Linked DNA regions of Homo sapiens. The protein of the gene in region 4 purifies or fractionates together with the protein of the main gene of each other region. This does not show direct contact. Each region holds a gene or a part of one and is shown on either strand. Other genes may lie near its edges.

Region 1 (3,500 bases), on a different chromosome or scaffold from region 4:
TGAACCCAGGAGACGGATTGCAGTGAGCTGAGATCGAGCCATTGCACTCCAGCCTGGGCAACATGAGCGAAATTCTGTCTCAAAATAAGTAAATAAATAAGCAAATAAATAAATAAGATGTCTTTTTATTAACTCTAAGTGCTGGAACTGGATTAGCATTTATAACCACAAATGTTAGTGAAATATAAACTTTTTCTCCTTTGATACAATGAGAAGGAAACAGGAGGGGTTACTTTGCATTATTTGATGTATGTCGGGAAGCCCGGCCATTAGGCAACATATTTTTAAACCACCTTAATTTCCTATATCTCTGATTAATCTGGAAAAAGAAACAGGTTGAAGGTGATCTGTAGGGGGTTACCCGTATCTGTTAGAATTGTTTGTTCAAATGGATTTTTAATTTCTAGTAATTTATTGTTGTTTGCTCCTCTCTCACGCCTAACCCAGATACCAAAAATCTAATTTTCTGATGACATCATTATATCTCTATAGCAGCTGGCTTTGAGAGAGGATTCTAAGTTCAGTGAGATCAGCAGCAAACGAACTTAGAAGAAACAGAAATCTTGTAAATATTCTTTTTTTAAGAGCATAAAATTTGGAAATGATTTTAAAGCAGTATAATTTAGAAATTATATATATATATATATATATATATATATATATATAAAATTCAGAATTATTCCGTGGATTTTCTGTGTCTTTAAAATGCAACACATAATGATATTAGTGTTTTCTGAGGTTCTGGATGGGGGCCGAGGAGAGCGTAGCTAAGCATGGCCTATGTCAGTTCTTCTCTGCAAGGATCAACTCTTAAGAGGATGGCTCCTCTGCCCTCCACCACCTTTTCTTTCCACTTCCTTTGGCATTATTCTTGGTCTGTTTTCACCTCTGTTCTCTGCCTGCCTCATCTCTTTTATTGAGCGCTTCCCAGTCTTAGACCTCTAGTCAGAAACCAATGGGAAAGATTTTGTTACTGTCCAGCACCCTACAGTGACTGGGATGGTGGTGGGAATTCCATGATGACATAGATATCTGTTGTTTCCTGAGAGACATCATGTGTTGTTACACAATAAAAAGGTTTTTCACTGAAAAAAATGTTTAAATCTGTCTCTAGTGCCTCACTTCAAGAATTCAAGAAAACTCACTAATAAACATGTTTAATGCTAATTTAAGATGCGACCATTTAGAAGGGATCTTCAACTATCTGAATAATGTTGGAGCAACATGTGCCATTGTTTGGTTTGGCGAATCCTATAATGAATCCTGTAATATGTAAAGATGGCATTGCGTGCACCCATTCTTAATGAGATTATATTATAATGGGAGTATTTCCATCCTTCACTCCTACTCAAAGCCTGTTCTTTCTCTTCCTTTTGCAATTCCCTGAAAGCTTTCTGCCTGCTGTTAGGTTATTGCTGCCACCTGACGTCTCAAAATAAAATTGCCGTGGGTTTGCTTTTCCAAAAGATTCGCACTATTCTGCATTTTATGGAAATAACTATTTGAGAGCAACAGTTTTTTCTCTATACTCCTAAATAAGAGCATTCTGAAGTGATTACTTATGGTGGGGAGATTATGGGTATCATTCATTCCACAAGCAAAAGGTGGAACTAATAGTACAGGAGGGAATGTAGGAGTCCTAATCCCTAGAATAGGACAAATCGCCATTGTGACCTTGGTGTGTACTTCACCTCATAAAATTGGACTCAGTGCTCTTAACAGCCTTATTCCAGCTTTAACATTGTTTTATTGTGTGTACTTTTATTTATGAAAACATAGCCCTTCTCCGTGATACTATTTACTTTTTTGGACTAAAGTTCTCAGTGTTGAACAGGTTTTCTCTCTTTTTTTTAACAGATACATAATATTTCTACATATTTATAGGATACATGTGATATTTTATTACATGCATAGGATGTGTAATGATCATGTCAGGGTGGCTGAAGTATCTGTCACTTTGAGTATCATTTCTATGTGTTGGGAACATTAAAAGACCTCTCTTCTAGCCATTTTGAAATATACAATACATTGTTGTTAACTATAGTCACCCTACTCTGCTATTGAACATTAGAACTTATTCCTTCTATCTAACTATATGTACCCACTAACCATCCTCTCTTCATCCCTCACCCACCCACACACACCTGCCCCACCTTCTGGTATCTATTATTCTACTCTCTACCTCCATGAGACCAACTTTTTTAGCTCCTACATATGAATGAGAACATGCAATATTTGTCTTTCTGTGCCTGGCTTATCTCACTTAACACAGTGACCTCCAGTTCCATCCATGTTGCTATAAATTACAGGATTTTATTCTTTTCATGGCCAAATAGTATTTTATTGTGTATATATACTAAATTTTTCTTTATCTATTTATTTGTTGATGGACACTTAAGTCAATTCCTTATCTTTGCTATTGTGAATGATGCTGCAATAAACACGGGGGTGCAGGTATCTATTTGATATACTGATTTATTTTCCTTTGGATAAATACTAGTAGTGGGATTGTTGGATCATGTGATAGTTCTATTTTTAATATTTTGAGAAACCTCCATACTGTTTTCCACAGTGGCTATACTAATTTACATTCCCACCAACAGTGGATAAGAATTCTGCTTTCTCTGCGTCCTTGCCAGCATCTGTTATTTTTTGGCTTTTTAATAACAGCTACTCTAACTGGGGTAAGATGATATCTCATTGTCATTTTGATTCAGATTTCTGTGATGATTGGTGATGAGCATTTTTTCATTTATCTGCTGGCCATTTGTATGTCTTCTTTTGAGAAATATCTATCCATATCCTCAGCCCACTTTTTAATAAGTTTTCTTGTTTTTTAAACTATTCAGTTGTTTGAGTTCTTTGTATATTCTAGATATTAGTCTCTTGTCAGATGGATAGTTTGCAAATATATTCTTCCATTCAACAGGTAGTCTCTTCACTCTGTTGATTATTTCCTTTGCTGTGCAGATGCTTTTTGGTTGAATATGTTTTCTTATAGAGCTATGTTAAATAGATGTTCACATTTTCATTGTGTGAATAAATAGCTTTGATAGCTTTCCTTTGCTCAATTATCAGAGACACAGCTGAAGACTCTCTATTGTTTGTTTTTGTTTTTGTTTGAGACAGAGTCTCCCTCTGTCACCCATGCTGGAGTGCAGTGGCGTGATCTCGGCTCACTGCAACCTTCGCCTCCTGGGTTCAAGCAATTCTCCTACCTCAGCCTCCCGAGTAGCTGGGACTACAGGCACGTGCCATCGTGCCTGGCTAATTTTTTGTATTTTTAGTAGAGATGGGGTTTCACCGTGTTAGCCAGGATGATCTAGATCTCCTGACCTCGTGATCCGCCTGCCTCAGTCTCCCAAAGTGCTGGGATTACAGGCGTGAGCCACCACGCCTGGCAACTCTCTATTGTTAATACAGTCATAACCAGAATAACACTTCTCTGCTTGCTTAGTTATTCAGGGACTTCCTTTGCTTAACTTTGTACTTATAGTACA
Region 2 (3,500 bases), on a different chromosome or scaffold from region 4:
TTATTTGGGCTTAAAACCCCACCCTATGATACTGAAGTTAGGAAAAAGGAAAGAGACTCAGCCACCTGCCTGCAGATGCTCTCTGACTGATTCTTGGATGAACCTGCCTCTTATCTCTTCTAGTCCGATTCATAGTCCTGTCCAACAACTACCTGCAGATCCGGGGCATCAAGAAAACAGATGAGGGCACTTATCGCTGTGAGGGCAGAATCCTGGCACGGGGGGAGATCAACTTCAAGGACATTCAGGTCATTGTGAATGGTGAGGAGAGTCCGTTCTTCCTGATCTCTGCATTGCTACAACCTTGGTTCTCCAAAATCATTCTCTTTAACTTCCTCTTGGGTCTGTAAATTAAATCCTGTCCTGACTCAATCATCCGTCTGAGCTAAATCCCCTCCCCACCGTAACATCTAGATTTCTTTTTTTTTTTTTTTTTAATATACTTGCCTGTTGGATCTTCCTTCAACTACGAGGGATTTTAGTGCAGCAACTGAATGTCCTTCACCGTTCTGCAGCACTAAAAACTTTCCCCCTGCTTACCTATTAATCCTCATTGTCCTTGATGTTACCATAATTGTGAAGTTATTCCGCTGCTTAAATGTTCAAAGAAAGTATTAAGTCAACTCAGGCCTCAGAATAGTCAGAATCATGGTCCATAGGCTTGTTAATCTTAACTTGCAGTGTCAAATAAACACACCCATGGAATTGATCTGACATTTACAAGATGTTTACAGGAAATTATAATGTCAGTACTAAGAAAATAAGTAAATCAGGGTTGAATTGTTTTGACTATTGACACATATTTTTTTTGCCAAACTCTCCCCATCTCATTCCTTTGGTAAAAAACAGTTTTGTACAAGGTTGTTTATCACAGTCCCAGAGAAATGGCACTCTTTGTTATAGCTGATGCATTCGAATTGGTGTTAACCATTTAACCACTGGGAGCAGTAATGTCCAACTTTTTCCAGTACAAAGAGCTCCTTTTTAACATCAAGTTTCACTGAACCTGGTAGTTATTAAGTTTAGTATGCATTGACTGAGAAAATACATAATGAAGAATAGTGACTATAAATTGAATACCATCTTAACATGCATAAAATGTATTACTATAGCTTCTCAATTAATGAAAAACAAAAATGCATGTTTGTAGAACTGTCTATTCAGTTTGCAGAAGTTATTTAGTACATACATGAATTTCAATTCCTGACACTAACTCTGTAGCTGCACACGACGTTTGTCCCACAGGCTGAGAACTCCTGACCTGGAGTGGTGTCTCTTCTCCAGGCCATTGGGTTCTTCCAAATTTTCACAACCACCCCATGACACCCTTTTTTCCTTCAGTGCCACCTACCATCCAGGCCAGGCAGAATATTGTGAATGCCACCGCCAACCTCGGCCAGTCCGTCACCCTGGTGTGCGATGCCGAAGGCTTCCCAGAGCCCACCATGAGCTGGACAAAGTAAGAAACTGGCTCATACCTTTTATCATGGACTAGAGGAGAATGGGGCATCACAAAGTCTGCTCCATGTTAGTGTCTGCGTGGAATGGATGTGGGCTTCTTAGGAATATTAACCCCAGGAGAAGAATGGACTCTTTTCTATAAGATTCTCTTGCTTGTGCATTGATTATTCCTTCAATTTCAGCCTTGTGGGGGCAGAGTCAGAGCCAGAGGGTGTGGTCTTGGGAGCCCACTTTGAAACATTTGTGGGTACAGTTGCAGCCCTTGGATAGTCAGAGGATGGAATAGAGGAATAAGAGGTGTATGTGGACGTTCAACTTGGTGCCTTAACTTTTTGTGAAGACTGAGGAGTCTTTCCCATTGACTCAGTCTGCATTCTATGGAACCTAATTAAAAATAAACGTCTTATTTCTGTGGTCGAAATCATGCTACTTTGCATTTCTACATGCTCTAGGGATGGGGAACAGATAGAGCAAGAGGAAGACGATGAGAAGTACATCTTCAGCGACGATAGTTCCCAGCTGACCATCAAAAAGGTGGATAAGAACGACGAGGCTGAGTACATCTGCATTGCTGAGAACAAGGCTGGCGAGCAGGATGCGACCATCCACCTCAAAGTCTTTGGTAGGGGCAGTGGGGGCCCAGGTCACTGCTCTGCCACAATTCCCCTTCCTCTGCACATTCAGTCCATCAGTAAGACCCTGGCCACTGTCCCTCAGAACATAACCCAATGCAACCATTTCTTGCCAGTTCCACCACCTAGTCCAAGCCCTAGTCCAAGCCACCATCATCCTCACCTGAGCAGTGGGACGGTCTCATAGCTGGCCTCCCCGACTCTCCCTATTGGTCCACTTCATTCACTTCTGCTCACAGTAGTCAGAATGACCTAAGTACCACTCATCTGTTTGAAAGCCTCCAGTGGCTCCCTATGGCAACCAGAATAAAATTCAGACTCCCTGCAATGGCCTACAAGACCAGAGATGAACTAGCTCCTGCCTTCTTCTCCAGCCTCATCTTTCTTTCGCTTTGCTGCACATGCAAAGTTCTCCAACCACACAGGCCTTCTTCATGTCCCTCAGACATACCAAGCTTGTTCTTCATCTCAGGATCACTGCCCTAGGTTTCTCTTCTGCTTGGAATATCTTTCCCTCTGATCCACTCTGAGCTGCCTTCTTCTGATCCACCATTCAGATCTTAACTCAAACTCACCTTCTCAGCGGCGCCTTCCTTCACTGCCCTGGCTAATTCAACTCCCTCTGCACTGCGACCACCCCCACCCACCTCCACTCATCTCTCTCTCGTGACTCTTACTGTATCTTCTTTGCTGTACTTAACAGTACCTGAACAGATGTCATTTGCATATTTGTTTTGGGGATTGTCTGTCTCCTACCTCTACTAGTGTGTAAACTTCAAGATAGCATAACCCTGGCTGTCATACACGGCGTTATCCCTGTGACTCCAAACAGTGCCAGACTTGGCATAGGCCCTTGGTAACTTTAGTGGTCGATGGGCTGGCTGCTTTGCCTTGTTTGCCTCCTTCCCTGACCTGTGCAAAACAGTGTCATGGAAGAGCCCCCACATCCCTGCTCACTTCATCTTCATAAACTCAGGAAACTTCCATTCATTTCAGAACTGAAAAGCATTTTGACCTGATCTTGAAAAAAGAATTGGTTGCAGAGAAACGTTTAACCTAATGGCCCTCAAGTCTCTCCGCGTGTCTGTTTAGAAAACACAGATAAACTGGTCTACTGTAGACAGCACTGGGGAAGTGCCAGTCTGAGGCGCAGCTCTGGTGCATGGAGCCCCCAGGTCATTAAAATGTGCACCTGGGAATCAGGGTTGGGACCTGCTTATCCAGCCTGATAAGGAGAACTGTTCATAAACACAGACCTTTGAAAATCAAGACTTTATATGCAAATGTCCTGCTAGTTATTCAGTAGTAAACAGCTGGGTTTAGAAACAGGCTATCAGTTAGGTTCAAGTTAACCGTACGTATTTGAGAGAGAAAGCTAAACTTCATGAAAAATATTCTTGAAAGTCT
Region 3 (3,500 bases), on a different chromosome or scaffold from region 4:
GTTTTGGTAGGAATCCATTTTAGTATGATCTTTGATGATAAGGAATAAATTCCATGTTAATAACTGAAACTCATAAATGATTATAAACCTGATTTCAAGCATTTGTCCAGAAAATGCTCAATCATTTATGATTTTCTCTCTCTCACCCTATGTATTCAGGGGGTCCTAACACCATCCTCCTAATTCAAAAGATTTCTGAAATCCACCCCCACTCTTTTTTATCCCGACTGCCTCAGCCTTCATTCAGACTCCCATCCCTGGATCAATTCATCTCTGTTTCCAGGTTAAGTCCTCCAGTCCTTCCCACACCATTGCTTGAGTGATCTTTTTAAGAACATCAGATTCATCATGTCATTGCCCTGTGATGGCTTCTCATGGTCTTTGGTCATGGTCAATACATCCATTACCCCAGTAGGGAGATCCTTTCTCTACACCCTCCCAGGCAACCGAGAGTCTGTTTGTGCACACGCTCCCCTCTCTTCACCTGAGATTTGGCCTGTGTACCCATAGGCCAGCCTGATCATCCTTTTCTTTGCTGACTTAGCTCACTTGCCACCCAGGAAGTTCTCTGAATAGTTTTAAGTTGCATACCCCACTATGCTTCCAGTAGAGGACAGTCATACCGCCGGCATTGCTTTATCCTGCTTTGTTAAACTTGCTTCTCATTTTGCAGCACGAATCATGCCATTGATAAGGAAGAATAATGGTACTGATAATGAAAGTTGTGGTTGCTTCAATTGTGTTTAAAACTTTGTTTACTCTATATAACAAAATAGCATTTTCCCACATCATTAAATATTCTTCTAAAACATGATTTTAAAGGGCTTCTTTGTACTTCAACATATGGATAAACCATGTAGTATTTAACCAGTTCCATTTTATGGTCCTTTAGTTGTTTCAAAGTTTTTGCTTTCATAAAGAAGACTGGAGTGATCATTCTTGGACATATATCTTAGTGTGCATCGCCTTTTTTTTGGTAAATAAATTCTTAGAAATAGAGTGTACCAATTTGTAATCTCACCTATAATATATATGTATATCCATTTCACTATTTCCTTGAACTTCATTTTTAAACCTTTGTCAAATTTATCACACATAAAATTGTGTGATACTGGATTTCTATCAATTTCTATTGGATTTACCCTCTTTTATTTGTGCTTTCTACAGATTAAGCTAATTAACACTTTGCCATAAATGTGACTTTATTTTCCATTTTGTCACCCCCTTTTTTTTTGTTTGTTTTATTGAGATGGAGTCTTGCTCTGTCACCCAGGCTGCAGTGCAGTGGTACAATCTCGGCTCGCTGCAGCCTCCGCCTCTCAAGTAGCTGGGACTTCAGGCGCGTGCCACCACGCCTGGCTAGTTTTTGTTTTTAGTAGAGATGGGGTTTCACCATGTTGGCCAGGCTGGTCTCGAACTCCTGACCTCAGGTGATCACCCGCCTCAGCATCTCAAAGTGTTGGGATTACAGGCGTGAGCCACTGTGCCCAGCCTGTCATCCCCTTTTAAACTAGTTTGTGGTGGATTTTTTATTTAAACATCAAAAATACTGTTAATCTTTTTGTTTAGGTAAATATTAACCAGTATTTTCTTCTAGTTCTTTTGTTTTTTTGTTTGTTTGTTTTTGTTTTTTTTGAGATGGAGTTTCACTCTTGTTGCCCAGGCTGGAATGCAATGGCACAATCTCGGCTCACTGCAACCTCCGCCTCCCAGGTTCAAGCGATTTTCCTGCCTCAGCCTCCCGAGTAGCTGGGATTAGCCACCACGCCCGGCTAACTTTTTTTTTTGTATTTTAGGAGAAACGGGGTTTCTCTGTGTTGGTCAGGCTGGTCTCGAACTTCTGACCTCAGGTGATCCGCCCGCCTCAGCCTCCCAAAGTTCTGGGATTACAGGCGTGAGCACCGTGCCCAGCCTTTCTTCTAGTTCTTTAGTGGTTTTACTTGTTTTAAGTATTTAATCTGTCTCAAATTTATTTTGGTATATGATGTGAGGAGGAGATTTCACAATGTTTTTGCCATTGGTTAACCAGTTTTCCCCATCCCTTTTATTACTAAACCTTTCTTTGGTCACTGACTTGCAAGGACACTTTTTAATATATTTAATTTTAATTCTAATTTTTATGTATTTGTTTTTTTGAGACAGAGTCTTGCTCTGTCACCCAGGCTGGAGTGCAGTGGTGCAATCTCAACTCACTGCAGTCTCCACTTCCCGGGTTTAAGCAGTTCTCCTGCATCAGCCTCCCCAGTGCCTGTAATCCCCAGGTGGGATTACAGGCATGCACCACCACACCCAGCTAATTTTTGTATTGTTAGTAGAGACAGGGTTTCTCCATGTTGGCCAGGCTAGTCTCGAACTCCCAACCTCAGGTGATCTGCCTTACTCGGCCTCCCAAAGTGCTGGGATTACAGGTATGAGCCACCATGCCCAGCCACTTTTTAATATATTTAAGGCAGCATTTAACCTAATAAAAATAGTAGCCATGCTTCAAGTATTGCTCCAAGCAAGCTTCACAAGCAATATCTCATTTGAGCCTTGAATCAGTCCTGAGGGTAGACACTGTTATTCTCTTCAGTTTAGGAATGATGTGATACTGAGGCTTAGGTTTAGTAATTTGCCTAAGGACACACAGCTAGCAAGCAGCTGAGTCTGAATTTGCACCAGGATGTCTGCTTTCCTTGTTGTTGTTGTTGTTGTTTTTGAGGCATAGTCTCACTCTGTCGCCTAGGCTGGAGTGCAGTGGCACAATCTTGGCTCACTGCAACCTCTGTCTCCCAGGTTCAAGTGATTCTCCTGCCTCAGCCTCCCAAATAGCTGGGACTGCAGGCACCCGCCACCACACCTGGCTAATTTTTGTATTTTTAGTAGAGACAGGGTTTCACCATGTTGGCCAGGCTGATCTCAAACTCCTGACCTCAAGTGATCTGCCGGCCTCAGCCTCCCAAAGTGCTGGGATTAGAGGCATGAGCCACCATGCCTGGCCTCAGGATGTCTGCTTTCTTGAACACTGCTACAGTATACTTCCTTGTTTTCTTATGTTTATTCTTGAAATTTGACTTCAGAATCATTTTGTCAAGTTCCCACGACATAAACCCAACTAATAAACAACAACAAAAAATCCTATTGGTGGTTTTTTTAAAGTAATATTAAATGTATAAATGAATACAGATTAAGTTGAATTAACCTCTTTGCTGTATTAAATATTCTGATTCTTGATCACGCTGCATCTCTCTTTATTCCCATTTTCTTCTCAGTCTTTCTATGCACTTTGCTATTTTTACAGTACAAGTCTTTTGTAGTTCTTGTTTATTTTTGGATAGTCTCTATTTTTTGCTGCCAGTGTGCCGCAGATCTTCTTGCTGTGATGTTTTCTCAATACGAGTTTGTTGGTGGATAGGTGGGTGGATGAAGGAACAGCCCTGGTTTCCTATCACTCTCCCTGCTCCCACCCACTAGAACGGAAGGCCTGACTGGTTGGTGCTTGTGCCTCCAACCACTTAGCA
Region 4 (3,500 bases):
AAATGGAGTTTTGCTCTTGTCGCCCAGGCTGGAGTGCAATGGCACAATCTTGGCTCACCACAACTTCCACCTCCTGGATTCAAGCGATTCTCGTGCCTCAGTCTCCTGAGTAGCTGGGATTACAGGCATGCACCACCCTGCCCAGCTAATTTTGTATTTTTAGTAGAGACGGGGTTTCTCCATGTTGATCAGGCTGGTCTCAAACTCCCGACCTCAGGTGATCTGCCCACCTTGGCCTCCCAAAGGGCTGGGATGACAGGTGTGTGCCACCTTGCCCAACCAATTTTTGTATTTTTTAGTAGACACGGGGTTTCATCATGTTGGCCAGGCTGGACTCGAACTCCTGACCTCAAGTGATCCACCTGCTTCGGCCTCCCAAAGTGCTGGGATTACAGGCATGAGCTACTGCACCTGGCCTGATTCAGTAGGTTTCCTTTTTTTTTTTTTTTTTTTTTTTTAAAAAAAAAAAAGAGAAAGGGCCTCGCTCTGACAGCCAGGCTGGAGTGCAGTAATGCAATCACAGCTCACTGTAGCATCAAACCCCTGGGTTCAAGAGATCTTCTGCCCAGCCTCCCTAGTAGCTGGGATTACAGGTACTTACCACCATACCTTGCTTATTAATTTTTTTTTTTAATAGAGACATGGTCTCGCTATGTTGTCCAGACTAGTCTCGAACTCCTGGGGTCAAAGGATCTTTTAGCCTCAGCCTCCTGAGTAGCTGGGACTACAGGTGCATACCACTGTGTCCGGCTGCACGGTGAGGAATTACTGAGTAGGTACTGCCCACTCAGCACAGGAGGGACTTCGGAGTCAACCCCCTCGCTTCAAATCACAGCTCTGTCACTTTCCACGTGTGTGACTTTAGTCACGGTTCTTAACCTCTTTGTGCATGTTTCCACATTTGTAAATGTGGAAATGATTTCTATTTGATCATTGCTTTCATAGGGTTGTTGTGAGAAATAATAAGCTAGGATGTGCCTGTAATCCCAGCTACTCAGGAAGCTGTGGTGGGAGGATCACTAGAGGCCAGGAGTTTGAGACCAGCCTGAGCAACATAGCAAGACCCTGTCTCTACAAATATATTTTTTATTTATTTAATTTAATTAATTTATTTGTTTGTTTATTTATTTTGAGATGGAATTTCACTCTTGTTGCCCAGGCTGGAGTTCAATTGTGCAATCTCGGCTCACCGCAACCTCCACCTCCTGGGTTCAAGCGATTCTCCTGCCTCAGCCTCCCAAGTAGCTGGGATTACAGGAATGTGCCACCATGCTGGGCTAATTTTTTTTTGTATTTTTAGTAGAGATGGGGTTTCTCCATGTTGGTCAGGCTGGTCTCGAACTCCTGACCTCAGGTGATCTGCCTGCCTTGGCCTCCCAAGGTGATCCCACCTCAGCCTTCCGAGTAGCTGGGACTACAGGCGTGTCTACCAAGCCTGGCTAATTTTTGTATTATTATAGAGACAGGGTTTTGCCATATTGCCCAGGCTGGTCTCGAACTCCTGGGCTCAAATAATACCCCCCTTCGGCCTCCCAAAGTGTTGAGATTACAGATGCGAGCCGCTGTGCCCCACCAGGGAATAAAATTTTTTAAAACCCTAGTGCCATATGATGAAGGGGCCCCTGCTTTTGAGGGAAGGGCTCCTGCCTTTTCTCACGCTTCTCTCCACCCCAGGTATGATCTCATGTACCAGTGCTGGAGTGCTGACCCCAAGCAGCGCCCGAGCTTTACTTGTCTGCGAATGGAACTGGAGAACATCTTGGGCCAGCTGTCTGTGCTATCTGCCAGCCAGGACCCCTTATACATCAACATCGAGAGAGCTGAGGAGCCCACTGCGGGAGGCAGCCTGGAGCTACCTGGCAGGGATCAGCCCTACAGTGGGGCTGGGGATGGCAGTGGCATGGGGGCAGTGGGTGGCACTCCCAGTGACTGTCGGTACATACTCACCCCCGGAGGGCTGGCTGAGCAGCCAGGGCAGGCAGAGCACCAGCCAGAGAGTCCCCTCAATGAGACACAGAGGCTTTTGCTGCTGCAGCAAGGGCTACTGCCACACAGTAGCTGTTAGCCCACAGGCAGAGGGCATCGGGGCCATTTGGCCGGCTCTGGTGGCCACTGAGCTGGCTGACTAAGCCCCGTCTGACCCCAGCCCAGACAGCAAGGTGTGGAGGCTCCTGTGGTAGTCCTCCCAAGCTGTGCTGGGAAGCCCGGACTGACCAAATCACCCAATCCCAGTTCTTCCTGCAACCACTCTGTGGCCAGCCTGGCATCAGTTTAGGCCTTGGCTTGATGGAAGTGGGCCAGTCCTGGTTGTCTGAACCCAGGCAGCTGGCAGGAGTGGGGTGGTTATGTTTCCATGGTTACCATGGGTGTGGATGGCAGTGTGGGGAGGGCAGGTCCAGCTCTGTGGGCCCTACCCTCCTGCTGAGCTGCCCCTGCTGCTTAAGTGCATGCATTGAGCTGCCTCCAGCCTGGTGGCCCAGCTATTACCACACTTGGGGTTTAAATATCCAGGTGTGCCCCTCCAAGTCACAAAGAGATGTCCTTGTAATATTCCCTTTTAGGTGAGGGTTGGTAAGGGGTTGGTATCTCAGGTCTGAATCTTCACCATCTTTCTGATTCCGCACCCTGCCTACGCCAGGAGAAGTTGAGGGGAGCATGCTTCCCTGCAGCTGACCGGGTCACACAAAGGCATGCTGGAGTACCCAGCCTATCAGGTGCCCCTCTTCCAAAGGCAGCGTGCCGAGCCAGCAAGAGGAAGGGGTGCTGTGAGGCTTGCCCAGGAGCAAGTGAGGCCGGAGAGGAGTTCAGGAACCCTTCTCCATACCCACAATCTGAGCACGCTACCAAATCTCAAAATATCCTAAGACTAACAAAGGCAGCTGTGTCTGAGCCCAACCCTTCTAAACGGTGACCTTTAGTGCCAACTTCCCCTCTAACTGGACAGCCTCTTCTGTCCCAAGTCTCCAGAGAGAAATCAGGCCTGATGAGGGGGAATTCCTGGAACCTGGACCCCAGCCTTGGTGGGGGAGCCTCTGGAATGCATGGGGCGGGTCCTAGCTGTTAGGGACATTTCCAAGCTGTTAGTTGCTGTTTAAAATAGAAATAAAATTGAAGACTAAAGACCTAAGGTTTTGTCTCTTTTTTTTTTTCTTTTTTTTTGAGACAGTCTCACTGTGTTGCCCAGGCTGGAGTGCATGGTGTGATCTTGGTTCACTGCAACCTCTGCCTCCTGGGTTCAAGCGATTCTTGTGCCTCAGTCACCAGAGTAGCTGGGATTACAGGGGCTCACTACCATGCCCAGGTAATTTTTGTATTTTTAGTAGAGATGTGGTTTCGCCATGTTGGCCAGGGTGGTCTTGAACTCATGACCTCAAGTGATCTGCCTGCCTTGGCCTCCCAAAGTGCTGGGATTACAGTCCTGAGCCACCACACCTGGCCCCAGCTTTGTCTCTTAAATGTTTACTTTTTTTGAGATCACAAAGATGAAAGATTTTTATAGA

Evidence for each region. Proteins that work in one complex are often made in the same cells at the same time.
Region 1: the proteins of TYRO3 (region 4) and HSD17B12 purify together in Homo sapiens (affinity purification with mass spectrometry; one large-scale study listed by BioGRID and IntAct). This does not show direct contact.
Region 2: the proteins of TYRO3 (region 4) and NCAM1 purify together in Homo sapiens (affinity purification with mass spectrometry; one large-scale study listed by BioGRID and IntAct). This does not show direct contact.
Region 3: the proteins of TYRO3 (region 4) and PTDSS1 purify together in Homo sapiens (affinity purification with mass spectrometry; one large-scale study listed by BioGRID and IntAct). This does not show direct contact.

What each region holds. Positions count from the first base shown.
Region 1 is NC_000011.10:43,809,738-43,813,237, forward strand, and holds part of HSD17B12 (very-long-chain 3-oxoacyl-CoA reductase), read left to right. Parts: intron 1-3,500. UniProt on the Homo sapiens protein: Catalyzes the second of the four reactions of the long-chain fatty acids elongation cycle. This endoplasmic reticulum-bound enzymatic process, allows the addition of two carbons to the chain of long- and very long-chain fatty acids/VLCFAs per cycle.
Region 2 is NC_000011.10:113,205,920-113,209,419, forward strand, and holds part of NCAM1 (neural cell adhesion molecule 1 isoform 2 precursor), read left to right. Parts: intron 1-123; coding exon 124-261; intron 262-1,341; coding exon 1,342-1,459; intron 1,460-1,913; coding exon 1,914-2,083; intron 2,084-3,500.
Region 3 is NC_000008.11:96,299,902-96,303,401, forward strand, and holds part of PTDSS1 (phosphatidylserine synthase 1), read left to right. Parts: intron 1-3,500. UniProt on the Homo sapiens protein: Catalyzes a base-exchange reaction in which the polar head group of phosphatidylethanolamine (PE) or phosphatidylcholine (PC) is replaced by L-serine. Catalyzes mainly the conversion of phosphatidylcholine.
Region 4 is NC_000015.10:41,576,212-41,579,711, forward strand, and holds part of TYRO3 (tyrosine-protein kinase receptor TYRO3 isoform 1 precursor), read left to right. Parts: exon of another isoform or gene 1-54; intron 55-1,674; coding exon 1,675-2,065; 3' UTR 2,066-3,500. UniProt on the Homo sapiens protein: Receptor tyrosine kinase that transduces signals from the extracellular matrix into the cytoplasm by binding to several ligands including TULP1 or GAS6. Regulates many physiological processes including cell survival, migration and differentiation.